4 linked regions of the Homo sapiens genome follow. The protein of the gene in region 2 purifies or fractionates together with the protein of the main gene of each other region. This does not show direct contact. Each region holds a gene or a part of one and is shown on either strand. Other genes may lie near its edges. The genes, in order: OMA1, ATP11A, RAB11A and TMEM230.

What was found.
Region 1: the proteins of ATP11A (region 2) and OMA1 purify together in Homo sapiens (affinity purification with mass spectrometry; one large-scale study listed by BioGRID and IntAct). This does not show direct contact.
Region 3: the proteins of ATP11A (region 2) and RAB11A purify together in Homo sapiens (co-immunoprecipitation; one large-scale study listed by IntAct). This does not show direct contact.
Region 4: the proteins of ATP11A (region 2) and TMEM230 purify together in Homo sapiens (affinity purification with mass spectrometry; one large-scale study listed by BioGRID and IntAct). This does not show direct contact.

Annotation. Positions count from the first base shown.
Region 1 is NC_000001.11:58,480,727-58,484,226, forward strand, and holds part of OMA1 (metalloendopeptidase OMA1, mitochondrial precursor), read right to left. Parts: intron 449-3,500; coding exon 239-448; 3' UTR 1-238. UniProt on the Homo sapiens protein: Metalloprotease that is part of the quality control system in the inner membrane of mitochondria. Activated in response to various mitochondrial stress, leading to the proteolytic cleavage of target proteins, such as OPA1, UQCC3 and DELE1.
Region 2 is NC_000013.11:112,692,431-112,697,419, reverse strand, and holds part of ATP11A (phospholipid-transporting ATPase IH), read right to left. Parts: intron 950-4,989; exon of another isoform or gene 1-949. UniProt on the Homo sapiens protein: Catalytic component of a P4-ATPase flippase complex which catalyzes the hydrolysis of ATP coupled to the transport of aminophospholipids, phosphatidylserines (PS) and phosphatidylethanolamines (PE), from the outer to the inner leaflet of the plasma membrane.
Region 3 is NC_000015.10:65,878,002-65,882,990, reverse strand, and holds part of RAB11A (ras-related protein Rab-11A), read right to left. Parts: intron 3,321-4,989; coding exon 3,240-3,320; intron 1-3,239. UniProt on the Homo sapiens protein: The small GTPases Rab are key regulators of intracellular membrane trafficking, from the formation of transport vesicles to their fusion with membranes.
Region 4 is NC_000020.11:5,105,917-5,110,905, forward strand, and holds part of TMEM230 (transmembrane protein 230), read right to left. Parts: intron 3,530-4,989; coding exon of another isoform or gene 3,515-3,529; coding exon 3,416-3,514; intron 395-3,415; coding exon 272-394; intron 1-271.

The sequences.
Region 1 (3,500 bases), on a different chromosome or scaffold from region 2:
GTAATATAAATTTATTCTGTGACATTTTCCTCATTGAAGATATTTTAACATAGATTAAAATACATCAATATTTCATGAAAAATAAATTCTAGAAGAATTTAGATAATATCTGTAATGTACATGATTTGACCCTGAATATCCTTTTTTTTTTCACTTCAAACATCATTTTTTAAAAAGTAACATAAAATGATAAGGACTGCAACATTCTTCATATATCTTGTGTCTCATAAATTTTAATTCAACTGCCCGTTCTTTTCTCAACTATGTATGTTAATGGTATTTGCTCCTGTTTTTGAATAGGAAGAGTATCCATTTTCTGTTTCTTCGTGATATTTAGGTCTTCTTTCTCTGATTCTTCAAGAAAATGCTTCGTGCTGAGTTTGAATAGTAATCGAGGGTCTGGATTAGACAGTGGTGGACAATTACACATCTCTCTAATTTTGAGAGCCTATAAAGAAATAATAAAATAAAAAAATACTATATATATACATCAATGTATTCAGATTGTTTCAGTAATCCCTAATATGCTCCATGTAAAACAAAGAATGTATTGTTATTTTTTTAATAAAAGGTATCTTGATTATAACACATAAAAGAGAACCACTGAAAAATCTACAGTGAACAGTTGTTTTCATGATTTGGTCAAATAGTATTATTTTAAAAACAACAACAATAGTATTAATAATCTGTAACAACTGCCCTAATGCTGTTTTGAGGGTAAACAAATCTTAGAGATACATCTATGGTTTCAGTTAAACTCTAGCAGACCGGAGAATCATTCAGATTTAAAAAGGCTCTATGAGAGATTTTTTTCAAGAAAAACTGCAGAACATAGATGACTGAATATACTGAAAAAAGATATACATAACTGATACAGTCTTGGGTAAAATTGATGATAATAACCTAGTGATATGGTTTGCATATGTCTCCACCCAAATCTCATCTTGAATTGCAGTTCCCATAATTCCCACATGTCATGGGAGGTAACTGAATCATGGAGGTGGGTGTTTCCCGTGCTGTTCTCATGATAGTGATTAAGTCTCACGAGATCTGATGGTTTTATAAAGGGCAGTTCCCCCTGCATATGCTCTCTTGACTGCCGCCATGTAAGACATGACTTTTCTCCTCATTCGCCTTCCACCATGATTGTGAGGCCATCCTCAGCCATATGGAACTGTAAGTCAATTAAACCTCTTTCCTTCATAAATTACCTAGTCTCAGGTATGTTTCATTAGCAGCATGAGAATGGACTAATATACTTAGAAAAGTAAACAAATCAAAATCATGACAATTTTTAACTCCAGGAGAAATAAAACATTGCAAAGGAAGGAAAAGTAATCACAGTGTACTATGGGGCTCAGCTATGACTAGTGCTTACAGTTTAAAATACCAAATCTTGATGAAACCAAAAAGTACAATTTCATCATACTGAGAAGGGGAGAGCTGCATGTGTGTGCACATGCACAGGGTGTGACACTGGAAAGAGAGGGCTTACGTCTCATCCTGTAAGGTGGAAAATAATTAAGGCCCAAAATTGAAGTTAGAATGTAGCAACATAAGCATGTTATTTAGACACAATGGGAAATACTAAAAGAATCGTCCAATAGAATTGGAAATAGTTACCCCTGAAACTGATGGCAGGGTTGAGGGACTGGCTGCTGATTTAAGTAACTAGCCTTAGAACTATTTAACTCTTCAAAGTGGGTATATGGATAATTTTAAGATATAAGAGCCAAAATAATTTTTAAGGATAAATGGTCTTAATATTTAGGAGTTTTAAAAGAAAGACATTTAGGGGAAAAAGCTAATTCAGTTTTTTACGACTTCTGGCTTTCTGATACTGATGTGTCTTAAGGGAAGTAAATAAGGCAGTAAAGGAGACAGTGTTTGAGGGACTGGTAAAATCTTAGAAAGACTATCCAGGCAAGGCCTCACTGATAGGATAATGACTTTGGGGGTCAAGAGGGGGACAGACCTGAAGGACATGAGGAAAGAGACCATGTGGCAACCTAGGGAAAAATCATTCCAAGAGGGAGCTGCGAGTACAAGGGAGATGGGAGCGTGCCTGGGGTGTTTTGGAACAGTGAAGAAGCAGGTACAGCCGAGTGGAGCAGGGTGGAGGGCAGGAGCAGATTATGTAGGACCTCACAGGTCATGCTAAGGATTTTAAGTTTTACTCTAAACAGCCTGCCTCTAATATTTGTGGGGTCCATGGAAAGAATGAAAATGGAGGCCCAGATACCATGTCTCTAAACACCTAAAAGCAGTAAGTCAAGCTAATACACTACTACTTAAAATCTGTTCTATTCTCCTACTTTGAAGAATACACATTCGAAATTACCTGGAAGTCCAGGTACAAAACTAGAATTCTTGAATTTCAGAACATGTAAGATTGCAGGGAGCTTACTGTGTAGCTCTTGCCACTAGCCTGCCATCTGCCCCCTCTCCCAGCCCTAGCTTATCTGGCACTGTAAAGGGCCTTGTGTGAATGTGTTCAAGGAAGAGGTCCAGATGGGCCCTGAAAGCAGGCTCAAACATATCTGGGCAAGGAATTCCATTATTCCAGATACCCTGAGTGGGGTATGGTAGGGGCACAGGTTCTTGTATGCTAACATTTCATTGAGTCCCACAGGAGAGAGGGACTTGTAGTCAGATGCGAGCCAGATAGACGTTCTCTAAGTGAATGGGGTCAGGGCAGAAGCTTGGGTCTAGGAGCACTTCTAGCTCTGATTAGGCTCTGAGTTACCAAGGTAAGCTGGAGAGTTGAAAAAACATTACTTAACGTGAAATTCTTCAGTGGCAGTGGTCTTGTCTTATTTTTCTTTGTATTTCACAGCAGATTTAAGATTTCCTTATATCTAGTGAGTGTTAAGTAAATGTTTAAGTAAACTGAATTGACACAACAAGAAAATGTTTCCCAACTATAGCACTTACAGCACTTAAGTAAACAGAAAGTCAGATCCTCAGCTAAACGGTGACCTACTGTCCAAACTGGGATACCTTTGAGAATGAAATGAGATGCTAGCAAGATTTGCACTGAGACATCAGGCATGAGCCATGACTGTCTCTGCAAAATTGGGACGTACGGTCACTCTTGCATTAGTTCCTTTACAATGATGTTAATTTTCTTTCCCAAGTGAGAAGTTTACCTGTCATGGCTGCTATATCAGTGTAGTGCCTATGTTTAAGCACTGCACTGGCATCAGTAAAGGGGGAGAGTATGGAGTCCAGCAGGTAACAACTGGCACAGCTGAGTGTGGCAATGAGAGATGCAAAGCAACAAAGAGAGGAATAGGATGCCATCCCCTAAGATCTTTGTGTATTCAGTAAAAACTCTTCTCTTATCCTTAAATTCGCTTATTCAGTCTTTTTAATACAACAAATATTTAGAACACCACAGTGAGTAAGGTGCTAGGTACACATTGGTCAGAATAGTCATGGTCCCTGCCCTCATGTAATTTACTTTGTATTTCTCCGTTACTGGGCATTAGAATTGTTCC
Region 2 (4,989 bases):
TGACCTGGGGTCTCGGTGTTGGCCCAGCAGCTGTTTTCTGCGTGGCTTTTCTGTGCCAGGAACGTTCTAGGCACACGGGTGACACTGGAACACGGAAATGAACACGGCTGGGTGGCGTGTAGCAGGCAGTGGACGCCTCTTCCTGGGACAAGGATGTTGATGGAGAGGGAAGAAAGGCCACTAGGAGCCCACCGTGGCCCTGGGGAAGGCAGAGGCCAGCACCGGAGCCCACCGAGGGGCGGCCAGCCCGCAGGACGCCACAGGAAGCAGCCCACGGAAGGCCCCAGGGCTCCCAGAGGCTGCTGCGTGGGCCGCCCCTCAGGCTGGACACGCAGGCACCCACCTGGCCAGGCCCTCACCTCGTCCACCCCGCCACCCACTGCGCGCAAGCACTGCGCCCCACGCATCCTCCACCCGCCTCGCCCACCCGCCAGCCTGCGCACGCACTGCCCCCAACCCCACTCTCTTTTTCTCAGCACCGTCGCCTGCGGGGCACCCCAACACTCACTGTGGTGGTTTCCTGTTCGCCTCCCCCATTCCAAGGGGGCCCCAGAGGGATGGGACTTGGGTCTCTGTCCTTCCCGGCTCACTGGCGTGTCTCTGAGCACACAGGGGCGCTCGCTAACTGCAGCTGGGATCACAAAAGCCCCACGGAGTCGCTGAGGTGGAGGGCAAGGGCAGAGAGGGGCCCGAGGGAGGTGGGCCTGGGGGTGATGGAGACCTTGGTAAGGGAACCCCCCGCGGTAGGCACAGAAGAGACAGGAGAAGGAAGGACGGGCCAGCTACGCGGGGTAACCTAAGAAAAACGGTAGCTGGAAGCCAAAAATGAGCACGGTGACCGCTGGGAAATATGGGGTCTAAAGCGGTGCCAACAGCGGGACGGCAAGCAGCAGGGCAGACAGTGTCACTCAGAGAGGGAGAGAGACGGGGCCGCAGCACACACGGGACTGGACTTCGGCAGAACGGGTCACTCGCTCCAACCGGAGGAGGCAAGCGCAGAGGCAGAAAGGCTGCTGGGCGTGGCAGGGGCGTTCCCACCAGTGACCACCGCTCTCCCCGGGAGAGCAGGGCAAGGTCACCCACTCTCCACGTGAAGAGGAGTGCGGGGAGAAGGTTCCGGAAAGCCCAAGGTGAGAGGCGGTCTCCTTAAGAAGCCCAGAAGCATGGACGGTGATGCAGCCGCAGGTCCATGCGCGCAACAAAGACGCCCCGTGCACTGGGCACCCAGCGTGCACGAGCGCCGTGACCTGTCCCGTCACTGCACAGACCCACCAGGTGGGCACCATCATAGTCCCCACCTTGCAGATGGGGCACCAAGCGTACAGGGGGCAACCAACTTGCCAAGGCCACGCAGCCGTCAGCCGAGACGGAACTTGAATGTGGGTCTGTCAGACTCCGACGCCTAACCTCGGCACCTCTGGGATGTACCATTTTGTTCTTCTCAGATAATAATATCCAAGTGAAAGAGAAAATCATCCCTTATCTGATCTTCTTGAATTTCTACTCTGTAAAACTTGCTTGCTATTGATTTTTATTGCAAATAAATAGCATTTTTACCAGCATTTAACTTGGTTAAAAAAACATTGATAAGTCTGGGACTTGAGAATCTTTTATTAACCCTGTTTCTATTGAACATATGCTCCAAGCACCAGAGAACAATTTGTATTTTGGGTTTTAGGGTTTAATACATCTGTAAATAGAGGATTTCATGTGTAGTTAAGCAACTATGTATTTTTATTCATGGATTCAACACAGTTTTAACTAATTGTAAACTGAAGACAGTGTTCTTATCCCTAGAAATTTAGCTGACTATAGCCAAACCTAATAATACAAACTTTTTTCCCTCTAGGTTATTAAATTCACTCCCTGGCAAGAAATAAAAGCACCTCAAGATGCTTGTTCCTAATAAGCAGATATTCAACAGGGTTCCAAAAAGCAATGGAAATGATTCAACCTTTGTGTAGACACAAAGGTGAAATTATGCATCTGGGCAGACTGCTTTAGAATGTCCAGGTGGAAGACACGAGGCCCTGAAGACAAGAAGGGTGCTTGGTGAATTCGTGTGATGAGCTGCCTGGTTAAACATTTGTTCATTATGAACACTTTACGAGTCTGTACTGCAGGCTTGCCACCACACTGCTGGAGACAGATTATTAGTCTTGGATTCTATGCCTCAGGATTCACTTATTTCAAATACCTGAAGACCTTGGCAGCTAAAGCAGCTTAACTTAGTGCTCCTGTGGTGTAGACTCCAGCAGCTGAACAACAGCAAGGTCCCACTGGATCGTCTAATCCTGGATTAGGAAAAGAAACTCCAAAATTATGTGGCATTTCTAAAATTTTAAAACAGGGGCTGGCATAACTGAGTTAAATAAATAAGTCTGTCTTTCAGAAGGGGCAACCTCACAGTTGAACACTGATGTTCACATTATACACCATTCGGTAATAAATAAAAGAAGCAGATATGTATGCATGCATATAAATAGCTGGACTTTCTAGAAGGTTTAACACACTCTAATATAGCACTGCTTCAAGTTCTCGGGAAGCAAAAATGTTTATTTTTCTCTTAGAAAAAAACTTATAACAGTTTGTGTTGAAAGTAATTATCTACTGTCAGCAAGGAAATCCTTCAGATCCTTCAATGTTTTCTATCTTAGAATGTTAAGAAGCAAGAATGGTAAGGTAGAAACAAGCAGAAGCTCTGACAGGCAAAAGAACAAAACTAACAAGGAATATCTGGGCTGAATCATTGAAAGAAGATTATAGGACCATAACAAGACTGAGTTCTTGACCCACAGAACTCTGAAGAAAAATCAAATGCCCTACATAGAGGCATGGAAGGGAAGAGGGAGGGAAGCATCCTGCCCACGCCGGGATGCTCAGCCTTACAGAGATCAAGGGCTGTTTTACCACAGCGTGTAAAGCTTTCTGAATCCTACCTGAGCTCCACACCATGCTCAGTGTCAGGGTGCCCGGTTTACCTCTCCTGTGACCCACGACGCCAGCAGGCCGGGACCCACAGGTAGCTGAGCAGCAGCACTGGCAGCCCATAGGTTTGCTCTCTCCCCAGCCAACCCTACCCAGGGACTCAGCTATGTTAACAGCCAGGCATGACAAACGGACTGAGAGCTTCCCCATTCTTGGCTCTCCACCCAGATTACCTCATTCAACCCTCACAATAGCTATGAAATGAGTACTGCTCTTACCCTCAGAGGAGAAAACTGAGGCAGAAGGAATTAAGCCACTTGCCCAAGGCCACATGGCTAAGAAGGGCAGGGAGGCTCCCACTCAGCATTCAGGCCACTGCCCAGAGAGTATCTAAGAAAAGTATCTAAGCTACCCGCTGAGGCTGCCCTGGTTCCTCTCGGAACTTAAACTACCTGAATCGGTGTTGCTCACCTTACAGCTCTGAAGAGGAAATGGAACTCGCTCTCCATCCATGCTGTTAAAAATACTCTTATTTATTTTGAGACGAGTTTCGCTCTTGTTGCCCAGGCTGGAGTGCAATGGTGCGATCTCAGCTCACTGCAACCTCCGCCTTCTGTGCTCAAGCAATTCTCCTGCCTCAGCCTTCTGAGTAGCTGGGATTACAGGCACCCGCCACCATGCCCGGCTAATTTTTGTATTTTTAGTAGAGACAGGGTTTCACCATGTTGGCCAGGTTGGTCTTGAACTCCTGATGTCAGGCGATCCACCCACCTCGGCCTCCCAAAGTGCTGGGATTACAGGCATGAGCCACCGCGCCTGGCCTAGAAGTGCTTTTAAAGTGTTACGTCATGGAGGTCAAACTACCTCATGGCACATGCACTACCCCATGGCTCATATGCTACCCCATAGCACATACACTACTCCACAACACATACGCCAGTCCACGGCACACACGCTACCCCATGGCTCCCACAGCACATACACCACCCCACGGCACACACACTCTCCACCCCGTCCCCTCTCCCCGTACCCACAGCTCATACATCACCCCAGAGAGCATACACCACCTCACGCCCCCGACAGCACATACATCACCCTAGGGAGCATACACTACCCCACAGCACATACACTACCCCACGGCACACACGCTTTTCCCCACGCCCCCCAGAGCACATACATCACCCCAGGGAGCATACACTACCCCATAAGCACAAGCACTCCTCATGGTATACAAACACGGCACCATTTACAAATACAAAGTATCTCTGCATGGCTCCGGTCCATCCAAACACCCAAACCACCAGTAACACACAGTGTGGAGTACCTGGCTACCCTGGCCTAACCTTCATCTGTTCTCTCACTCATTTGCCTCTGCTATCTCTCCAGGGTTAATCCACAATAAAATGCCTACAGCAATGTTTTCCAAGGACTTCTTTATCTTTTAGCCACCCTCACACATCAGAAGGAGCTGGAAAGCTTTCTTTGTCCCAGGAATTCTGACTATGTGAACACCAAGAAGGAACAGGGTCTATTTATCTATCCTTTTTAATAAAGTAAGTCACATAAGGAAACCATGAGGAAATATGAGTATTCAATCCCAGACTCTTTTTTCTGTAGCAAAAGGAAATATAATTTAGTCCTACATAGTGGACGATAACGCAATTACAAGAAAACAGATCATGACTGTTTCTGGAAAAAGTCAAATTAGTTTAATACCATAGACATGAACTTAAAATGATAGAGATGAATGGCTCTGTGTGTAAATATGGGTGAGGTAGCCAGATGAATACACTGCAAAAAACACAGGTGGAATGAGAAAAACAGAAATAATATTATCCCACAACTCGTATTCCCGAGACGTTATCCAATAATGTATATGCTGGAAAAGTTCACTAAAGAATATTTACCGCTTAGATTAAAAGAAAATGTGATGCCATAAGCGTAATAATACAGCAAAGGGGAATTAAAAATGCAAGCTACGCAAACACTTATATAGATCTATATAACAGAAAACAGCTGAAGGCCTGGAGAAAGGGAGTCAAGCATCAAAATTGGACGTCT
Region 3 (4,989 bases), on a different chromosome or scaffold from region 2:
AAGAGAAAGAAAAGGACAAAGCAGATGTGGTAAAATATTAACATCTGAGGAATATGGGTGAAGGATATTTGCAAATTCTTTTTACTATTATTTCAACCTCTTTAAATTTGAAATTGTCAAAATGCAAAGTTAAAATAAAAAAGTAAAAGGTATGTATTAAAAACATCCTTTAGTGAACCTGAGAAAAGACAAAGCTGTACTGAAATTCAGAGGCGGAGCAATCTACCAGTCTCACTCTCATACTAGTAAACTACCTCTAAAAAAATACCATCAGCAAAATCATCTCATGGAGTCACTTTCAAATTCATGGGTGTCAAGAATGCCATGGGTCTATTCTGAAACCAACAACACAATTAACTCTGAAGTAACAATGTAAATTTTCTGATATATAATTTTACAACTTAAAATTTTTGGCCAGGCATGGTGGCTCATGCCTATAATCCCAGCACTTTGGGAGGCCAAGGCAAGCAGATGGCTTGAGCTCAGGAATTCAAGACCAGACTGGGCTCCATCTCAATTTTTAGAAATTTTAAAGCTATTTTTTCTTTCAGCAATATCAAAACACAACGTAAATACTCCCTTAAGACTGTTAACATTTAAGGTAGAATCAAGTGCAATAAAGAGTCTGTCCTCTTCACTGTTTTCTCTATGCATTCACACTTCCACTGGCATACAGGAGGAAGAAAGTTTAGAACAAACATCCTAACACCTGCAGAACAACACAGATGTCTGCTGCCACATGCAGTGATCTCTGATCCTACAGACCAACAGTGAGATTTATGCAGGAAGCTGAGGAAACAGTGAATATAGAAAGGAAAAGTGGTAGCAAGTGAAACTAAAGTCTTCTTTGCTTTCAAGCAACAATTAAGCTGTAACAAAAGTTCAATCTAGAGTGAATTTTAAGAAAAGCAACTATATGTTCATCTTTTTTTTTCTTTTTGAGACAGGATCTCACTCTGCCCACAAGGCTGGAGTGCAGTGGCATGATCTCGGCTCATTGCAGCCTAAACCTCCCAGGCTCAAGCAATCCTCCCACCTCAGCTGGGACTACAGGCGCACACACTACCATGCCTGGCTAATTTTTTTGTGTTTTTTTTTTTTTTTTTTTTTTTTAGAGACAGGGTTTTACCATGTTGCCCAGGCTGGTCTTGAACTTTTGAGATCACTGCATGTGGCAGCAGACATCTGTGTTGTTCTACAGGTGTTAGGATGTTTGAGCTCAAGCGATCCGCCTGCCTCAGCCTCCCAAAATGCTGGGATTACAGGCGTGCATCAACATGCCCAGCTCTTAAAGGGCTCAATTTTAAGTACCGACTAGTTCATGTTTGAGTGGATCAGAAGCTCAATGTTACAAAATGATGCATAAAATAGTTAACTGCAGATGGAAGACTTGGGCTCATCTTCACTTAATATCAGAATAAATGGGCCAGAATTACAGCAGAGGAGATTTGATGGAACATAAAAAATATTCCAACAATGAGGACTGTCTAAAAAGTTTTTTCAGATGAGACTTTCTGAGGCCTTAAAATGCTCACACATCTTTAAGGTAATTTAATTCACATGTTTTAAGACTATGACTCTGAGGAGCAGGGAGGTTCAGTGACTTTAGTTAAACGGGGAGTAGAAGCAAAGTGATAAAAATGTAATGCCCTAGAACTCCTGGGTCTCAATCTAGTACTCTACATGTTGACTTAATAAAATGTACACAAATGGCTATAAAGAAAACAAGGACTTGCAGACATACTACATATTTAATCAAATCTTGCTTGCTTAAAACAATCTGCAGTGAAACTTTGACAGAGAACATTCTAAAGGAAAGCTACTGTGTTCCAAAGACTGCTTATCCAACCCCAGCACTATTCTTCTGATAACAGAAAAGAATTATAATAAAATAGGTACATAAATCTCCAATTTTCTCATGCCTTAATTGCCGTTCAGCTACTAATTTGCCAACTGTTCTCTATATACCAGGGATAGATAAGTAATTTACAGTATTCAAAATGGGTACTTTACAGGTACTCATTTTTGAAGTCTAGGGCAGTGACAGACCATTCTTTGCTAAGGGTTACTGAGACAAAAAACCTTTAGGTCACAAAAGTCAAGTCAAATCCTATCACAAGATTTTATAAATATAAGCCTTCTCTCAAAAAAGAAATAACAAAACTCCTCAAAATATATATGAATTTTATAGATGGAGAAATTAAGGCCTAAAAGGGTTAGGTAACTTGCCTAAGATTGTACAACTAACAGTAAGTGGAGGAGCCAGGACTAGAACCCAAGTCAGGCTTCCAAATCTTAACTCCTTGACTTTACGCTTACATTTTTACAGTAAAAGAAGATAACATGTTAAAGTTAAAATCTGTTAATCTCTAATACAGGGGCTGCATACAAACAATAAATCAAAACTTGTTACATTATAATTGGAAACTCAATCATATCTCTGTATAGACTTTTTAGAACAATGCCACGTAAAACTATACTATATATTAAGACCACATTTTAAATCATGAGTTCTTAAAAGTAACATACAATTTAAAAGTATTTAAAAACAACCCATCAAAGTACTAATTAGAAGATTAAGACTAATCTTACTAATAAATCTGGTTATTCTAATAGTTTCAGGATAAATATGAGTGAACACTTCTTATCTCAGAGGCTGACCTGGTCATTCACATTCCAAAACAGCATGAACTCCATCTCTTTCCAACTACTTTTTAAAACTTTTCTATATGCAATCATTGGCTGATTTTATCTACCAATTATCTCCCATGATACAATATAGAATACGCAAGGGATACCCTTCTTCTGTATCATGGGAGAATTTTATTTTGTCGCTATAATTTTTAAAAATGTTTTTTCCCTAGCTTTGCCTTTACTAAATTTAAAAAAGGGCATTTATATCTTTCTATAGCTGGGATCTCAATATTTACCTCATAAAAGTACATTTAAACATTACTTTGTGACCATGAAGAATGGAATACCTGGACTGAAGTAATAATGGAAGTGAATGAATTATTTTCAAAGTATTTTTCCCACTATAAATCAGATGAATTAGGACAACTGAAGCTCAGTGAGCAAGGGTTGTAGTTAATTTTGCACTCTAAACAGCTTTTGCTAGAGTAGCTCTCAAATGATAGTCACTCTCGGCTGATATATAGTTTAGTTACTGATTAGTTTGTTTAAATTACCTTCCTAAAACTTCTAGTCCTACTGGTGTAATCTGAAAATACAAGTCTTACCTGTTAAAATTGTCTGAAAAGCAGCTTCTACATTTGTAGAGTCTAGGGCCGAAGTTTCAATGAATGACAAACCATTCTTTTCTGAGGGGAGACACAAAAGTTCAGTCTTGTTAAGTTTTAAAACAAGGAATAGGATATACTCAAGCCCTCAAAAGGAAAAATAACAGAACTTTTTAAAACTTAAGACCTCCTCAACTTCTGGGACAGTAAGGGCACCATTCTGTTTACACTTTATTTATTTACTTACTTTATTTACTTCTTTATATAAGTAGAGATGCAGGTCTCACTAGGTTGCCCAGCCTGGTCTTGAACTCCTGGCCTCAAGAGTTTCTCCTGCCTCCATCTCCCAAAATGCTGAGATTACAGGCATGAGCCACCATGCCCGACCCTACTTACACTTTAATATTTACACTTTAATAGATTAAAAATAATAGCAAGAGAGCTGGGCATGGTGGCTCACTCCTGTAATCCCAGGACTTTGGCAGGCCAAGGCAGGCGGATTGCTTGAGCCCAGGAGTTCAAGACCAGCCTGGGCAACATGGCAAAACACTGGAGAGAGGTTTTGCTCTCTCTATATAAAGAATACTAAAAATTAGCTGAGCGTGGTGACACACACCAGCAGTCTCAGCTACTTAGGAGGCTGAGGTGGAAGATCACTAGAGCCCAGGAGGTCGAGGCTGCAGTGAGCCTTGACTGTGCCACTCCACTCCAGAATGGGTCACAGAGTGAGATCCTGGCTCCCAAAAAAAAAAAAAAAAAAAGTGAGAAATTGTCAATTGGCTCCTTAATTAAAATAAATACTTGTTATATCTAAGTACTACTCACTAGTGACGAATGACACCACTTAAAATGTGGTAAAAATGTATCAAGTGCCCAGTTATTTCCATCTCTTGCTATCCTCTCCATCAACTACATTGGCTATAGTATTCCGTATGTTGTAGCCATATTATTTACAATAAAGCTATTCTTGCATGGGAAATTTAAAAAACTGTTACAGAAAGTTATTCATAGCATAAGCATTAGTGCAAAGGCAAGACTTTCTCTCTTTTTTTGTTTGTTTTGTTTTGTTTTTTTGGGACGGAGTCTCGCTCTTTCGCCCAGGCCGGACTGCAGTGGCGCTATCTCGGCTCACTGCAAGCTCTGCTCCCGGGTTCACGCCATTCTCCTGCCTCAGCCTCCCGAGTAGCTGGGACTACAGGCGCCCGCCACCGCGCCCGGTTTTTTGTATTTTTAGTAGAGACGGGGTTTCACCATGTTAGCCAAGATGGTCTCAATCTCCTGACCTCATGATCCACTCACCTCAGCCTCCCAAAGTGCTGGGATTACAGGCATGAGCCACCACGCCCGGCCGCAAGACTTTCACTAGCCACAATGCACAATGTTGTCTTCTGGCATGCTGTCCCTACCAGAACAGGGGCAAGAGACACGTGAATTCTTTATGAAGCCAAAAAGTTACAGCTCCTAAGCAGCTGCATCCCTGTTGGTCCCTGACACTCCCTGAGCCTCTGCCTTTCACTCACATAGAGCTCACGTACAGCAGCCTTTGTAAACACAGAAACATAACAGAAAAAGAGACAGAATATACAATGTTTATATTCATTTTTTGGCAGCAAAATATTAGTGTTTTAATGACTCAAAGCAAAAAAGCTATACAGTCATCACAAACTTTCAAAACAATTCTTGCTAAGCATTCATGTTTACCTCTCTGAAACTATTATAACCTATTACTCTCATTGGAAGGTATCAAAAC
Region 4 (4,989 bases), on a different chromosome or scaffold from region 2:
TTAGCTGGGTGTGGTGGCACACACGTGTAGTCCCAGCTACTCGGGAGGCTGAGGTGAGAGGATCGCTTGAGCCCAGGGAGGTAAAGGTTGTGCCACTGCACTCTAGCTTGGATGACAGAGCAAGACCCTGTCTCAAAAAAAACAGACCACTGGGACGGACAAACACACACACACACACACACACACACACACACACACACACACGCACACTAGAGCCTTGGCTAACATTTTAAAAATCTCACAACTTATTCCCACATGCCCGTCAGCTTACCCCTTTGCTGATGTAGCCTGACAGCAGGAGGGAGCCTATAATAATGAGAAAGGCGCCAATCAAAAACAGCACAGTGGCAAGTGCGATGGCCTTATAAGGGATCTTAGGAGGGGTTTTCTTAAACTGGAAGAGAAATAGAGATGAAAAAGACAACGAAGAACATTAATGCAAATACCTGGGTTCAAACATTTAATTAATTATTTGTAATTTTTATGTTTTTGTTTGTTTGTTTTGAGATGGAGTTTCGTTCTTGTTGCCCAGGCTAGAGAGCAATGGCGTGATCTTGGCTCACTGCAACCTCTGCCTCCTGGATTCAAGTGATTCTCCTGTCTCAGCCTCCTGAGCAGCTGGGGTTACAGGTGCCCGCCACTACACCCAGCTAATTTTTTTGGTATTTTTAGTAGAGACAGGGTTTCACCTTGTTGACCTGGCTGGGCTTGAACTCCTGACCTCAGGTGATCCGCCCGCCTCGGCCTCCCAAAGTGCTGGCATTACAGGCGTGAGCCACCGCGCCCGGCCTAATTTTTATGATTTTAGAGACGGAGTCTTGCTCTATCACCCAGGCTGGAGTGCAGTGGTGCAATTACAGCTCATTGCAGCCTCGAACTCCTGGGCTCAAGCAATTCTCTTGCCTCATCCTCTCAAGTAGCTGGGACTACAAGTATACGTCACCATGCCCAGCTAATTTTTAAATTTTTCTGTAGAGACGAGGTCTCACTATGTTGCCCAGGGTGGTCTCCAACTCCTGGGCTCAAGGGAGTCCTTCCACCTCTGCCTCCCAAAGTGCTGGGATTACAGGTATAAGCCATCAAGCCCAGTCTCAAACACTTTAAAACAGGGAGGAGAGCTCGCACCTGTAATCCCAGCAATGTGGGAGGCTGAGGCAGGCGGATCACTTGAGTTCAGGAGTTTGAGACCAGCCTGAGCAACATGGTGAAACCTCGTCTCTACAAAAAATACAAAAATTAGCCGGGCGTGGTGGCATGTGCCTGCAGTCCCGGCTACTTGGGACGCTAAGCTGGGAGGATGGCTTGAGCCCAGGAGGTGAAGAGGCAGCGAGCTGAGATTGCACCACTGCACTCCAGCCTGGGTGACAGAGCCAGAGCCTGTTTCAAATACAACAACAGCAAAAACAGGAGGGTAATTAAGAACCAAACTAGATACTTTATGTGTCTTAAGTATGTCCTACCACCCAGTGCAGCTCTGAGAAATAAAAGGGACTGGCAAGAGATGAAGCTCTAGTTATTGCTCTCACAGTTACTCAAAGGAATCTCAGAGGAATGTCATTCACTCTAGTTCGAATCTCATTCCATAAATCATTCATTGTATCATAAGAAACTTTTCTTTAAAACAAAAACAGAAATGACTTTACAGTCATTCATTTGTTAGATATATATTTATTAACTGCCTGGCACATAGATGGCTGTACTAACTTATGGGGATTTAAGAGATCCTGTCTCTACAAAAAATTTTAAAATTAGCTGGGTGTGGTGGCACATGCTTGTGGTCCCAGCTATTCAGGAGGCTGAGGTGAAAAGACTACTTGAGCCCAGAAGGTCAAGGTTACAGTGAGTCTTGATTGTGCCACTGTACCCAAGCCTGGGCAAAAGAGCAAGACCCTGTCTCAAAAAAAAAAAAAAAAGGCTGGGCGCGGTGACTCACGCCTGTAATTCCAGCGCTTTGGGAGGCCGAAGTGGGTGAATCACTGGAGGTTAAGAGTTCGAGACCAGCCTGGCCAACATGGCGAAACCCCATCTATACTAAAAATACGAAAATTGGCCAGGCATGGTGGTGCATGCCTGTAATCCCCCAGCTACTAGGGAGGCTGAGGTACAAGAATCACTTGAACCAGGAGGGGGAGGTTGCAGTGAGCCAGGATTGCACCACTGCAGTCCAGCCTGGGCAACAGAGCAAGACTACATCTTAAAAACAAAACAAAACAAAACAAGAGGCTGGGCAAGGTGGCTCACGCCTATAATCCCAGCACTTTGCGAGGCCGAGGCAGGATGATCACCTGAGGTCAGGAGTTCAAGACCAGCCTGACCAACATGGAGAAACACTGTCTCTACTAAAAATACAAAATTAGCTGGGCGTGGTGGCGCATGCCCGTAATCCCAGCTACTTGGGAGGCTGAGGCAGGAGAATCGCTTGAACCTGGGAGGCAGAGGTTGCAGTGAGCCGAGGTTGTGCCACTGCACTCCAGCCTGGGAAACAAGACTAAAACTCCGTCTCCAAAAAAAAAAAAAAAAAAGGAAAAGAAGGCAATTTCAGCTTATTCCAAATGATTAGTTGTTTGTTCCACATAGCAAGTAAACCTGCCTTATGAACAAATTCAATTCAAGGTTAAGATTCAGAGACAAATTTTCCAAGGTTTGGCTCATCGTTGTATCTGACCTAAGTGGCTGGAAGCTTCCCAGATCTTTCCAGATCTATTTTTATCTCTCCTTCAAATGTGGGTCCAAAGAGTAATTTATTTATTTATAAAGGATGGTTTCCTGCTACTTCCTCGTTGGCCCTAGTTCCACGTAGAACATTCTATTGTAAGGGGAAGTGTGCAAAAGGAGATGCTGTAGTATTGACTAGTTTATAAATGGTTAGGGTAGGATACAAACTTAATAAATACTGTGTTTTACTTACTATTTATCACAAAGAATACCTTTAATAAATTGGATCTCATGACATCAGGAAAGAAGGAAGATTCCCACAATCTGCTGGCTTTAGTAATAAGTTTCTCCCTTAAAAGGTGAACGGGCTTTGACTAAAGTGTAAATAAACAGTGATAAAAAAAATTCCACCTAACAAAAATTTTAAAGTTCCTTAAAAAAAGAAACAACAACAAAAAACTCCACTTAACAAAACACAATCTGATTAGTTTCTGAATAAAGTAAATAAAACCTGTAACTACAAGGCTCTCGCATTACAACTAAAAATTCTTAGAAATGGACAATACTGGAATTGGTTTGAAACTACCCTGCCACGGCCCTCTTCTGCGATTATGGCTGAAAGGGTCTCAGAGCTGAGTTTTCTTCTTGTTGCTCCTTCTAATCCCCAAGGACAGTTAGCAAAATCTCCATCTGGAAGGTCTTCCTGCTAACTTAACAGAAACACAGCCAGTCAGTCTTGTCAGTTCTCTTCTGCATTTACCTGAAGGTCAATGTAGCCATCGTCTGTGCTGGAGAGCCTTGAATATTTCACTTTACTACTGGGGATTCCAGTAGCCAGGTTGGTACGGGACGGCATCATAACACGCTGACACAGCTACAGTTTAAAAACAAAAAACCCGTTATTGTCTGTAGATGACAATGGTGCATTATAGCCAATGAGTTCAGGATTATTAGATGCTGTGCACTGGAGTTCTGGGCTGCCATGTCAGACTAGCAATGGGCAATTTACACTTCACTGCTAAATTTTCATTGTGTCAGAGGCATATGCATATGGAAAACCAGATATGCCTCTGACACAGTGAAAAGATTCTCACTATGTATTAAATATCTAGTCTGGTCTGTCCTTGTAGAATGACAGTGAAGACACTCACCAAGAATCACATTCCAGTTTATTTTGCCACCAAGATTCCCTGACTTTTAATTTTTCCAAAGTCACATAGAGACTAGGTAGAATAATGGGGACTTAAATCTAGGTCCACCTGACACCACAGCATTGCCTGTCCCCTGCTCCCGCTCTTAAGAAAAAGCAAGAGGAGCATATACTCAAATGATTCTCTTGTTTGACAGGGAGGGAGAAGAGGGCAGAGAATGGAATACACTCACATCAGCATTTTGCCTATTTCCCCTTGATAGAGATCAACCTTTTAATGCAAAAGATCTGTAAAGTTTCTTGCCGTAAATTTGTGGGGTTTTTTTGTTGTTGTTGTTTGTTTGTATTTTTTGGAGACGGTGTCTTGCTTTGTCACACAGGCTAGAGTGCAGTGGGTTGATCTCAGCTCACTACAACCACCGCCTCCCAGGTTCAAACGATTCTCCTGCCTCAGCCTCCCGAGTAGTTGGGATTATAGCCATGCACCACCATGCCTAGTTAATTTTTGTATTTTTTAAGTAACGAACTGGTTTTCACCATGGTGGCCGGGCTGGTCTTGAACTCAGTTTTTTTTTTTTTCTTTGCGATAGTCTCACTTTGCTGTCCAGGATGGAGTGCAGTGGCGCAATCTCCATTCACTGCTGCCTCTGCCTCCTGGGTTCAAGCAATCCTCCTGCCTCAGCCTCCTGAGTAGCTGGGATTACAGGCGTGTGCCACCACGCCTGGCTAATTTTTGCATTTTTAGTAGAGATGGGGTTTTACCACGTTGGCCAGGCTGGTCTCGAACTTCTGACCTCAAGTGTTCTGCCCAACTCAGCCTTCCAAAGTGCTGGGATTACAGGCCACTGTGCCGGGCCCCTTGTAAATTTGGATACAGGCCTGGCTATACTAGTGCCTCCAGAAGCGCCCACCTCTCTGTCCCATCCCAAGCACTGAAAGTAGTGATTTCATTTTCCTAATTACTTCTGTACCAACCTTAAGAAACGGAATATGGTATAATATCTTACAAAAAATTTTAAAGAAAGAAAGAAAAAAATGGAATAACAACCTGGCTTCTTGTTCAAAATATTCAAAGCAGACAGCAGTAATGAAATCATGGCTATTATGTCACTAGTTTAAGAGACAGTGGGTAAGTTTGAAAAATCATAACATTTAAATTAAGACCATTTGTATTAATAGGCCGG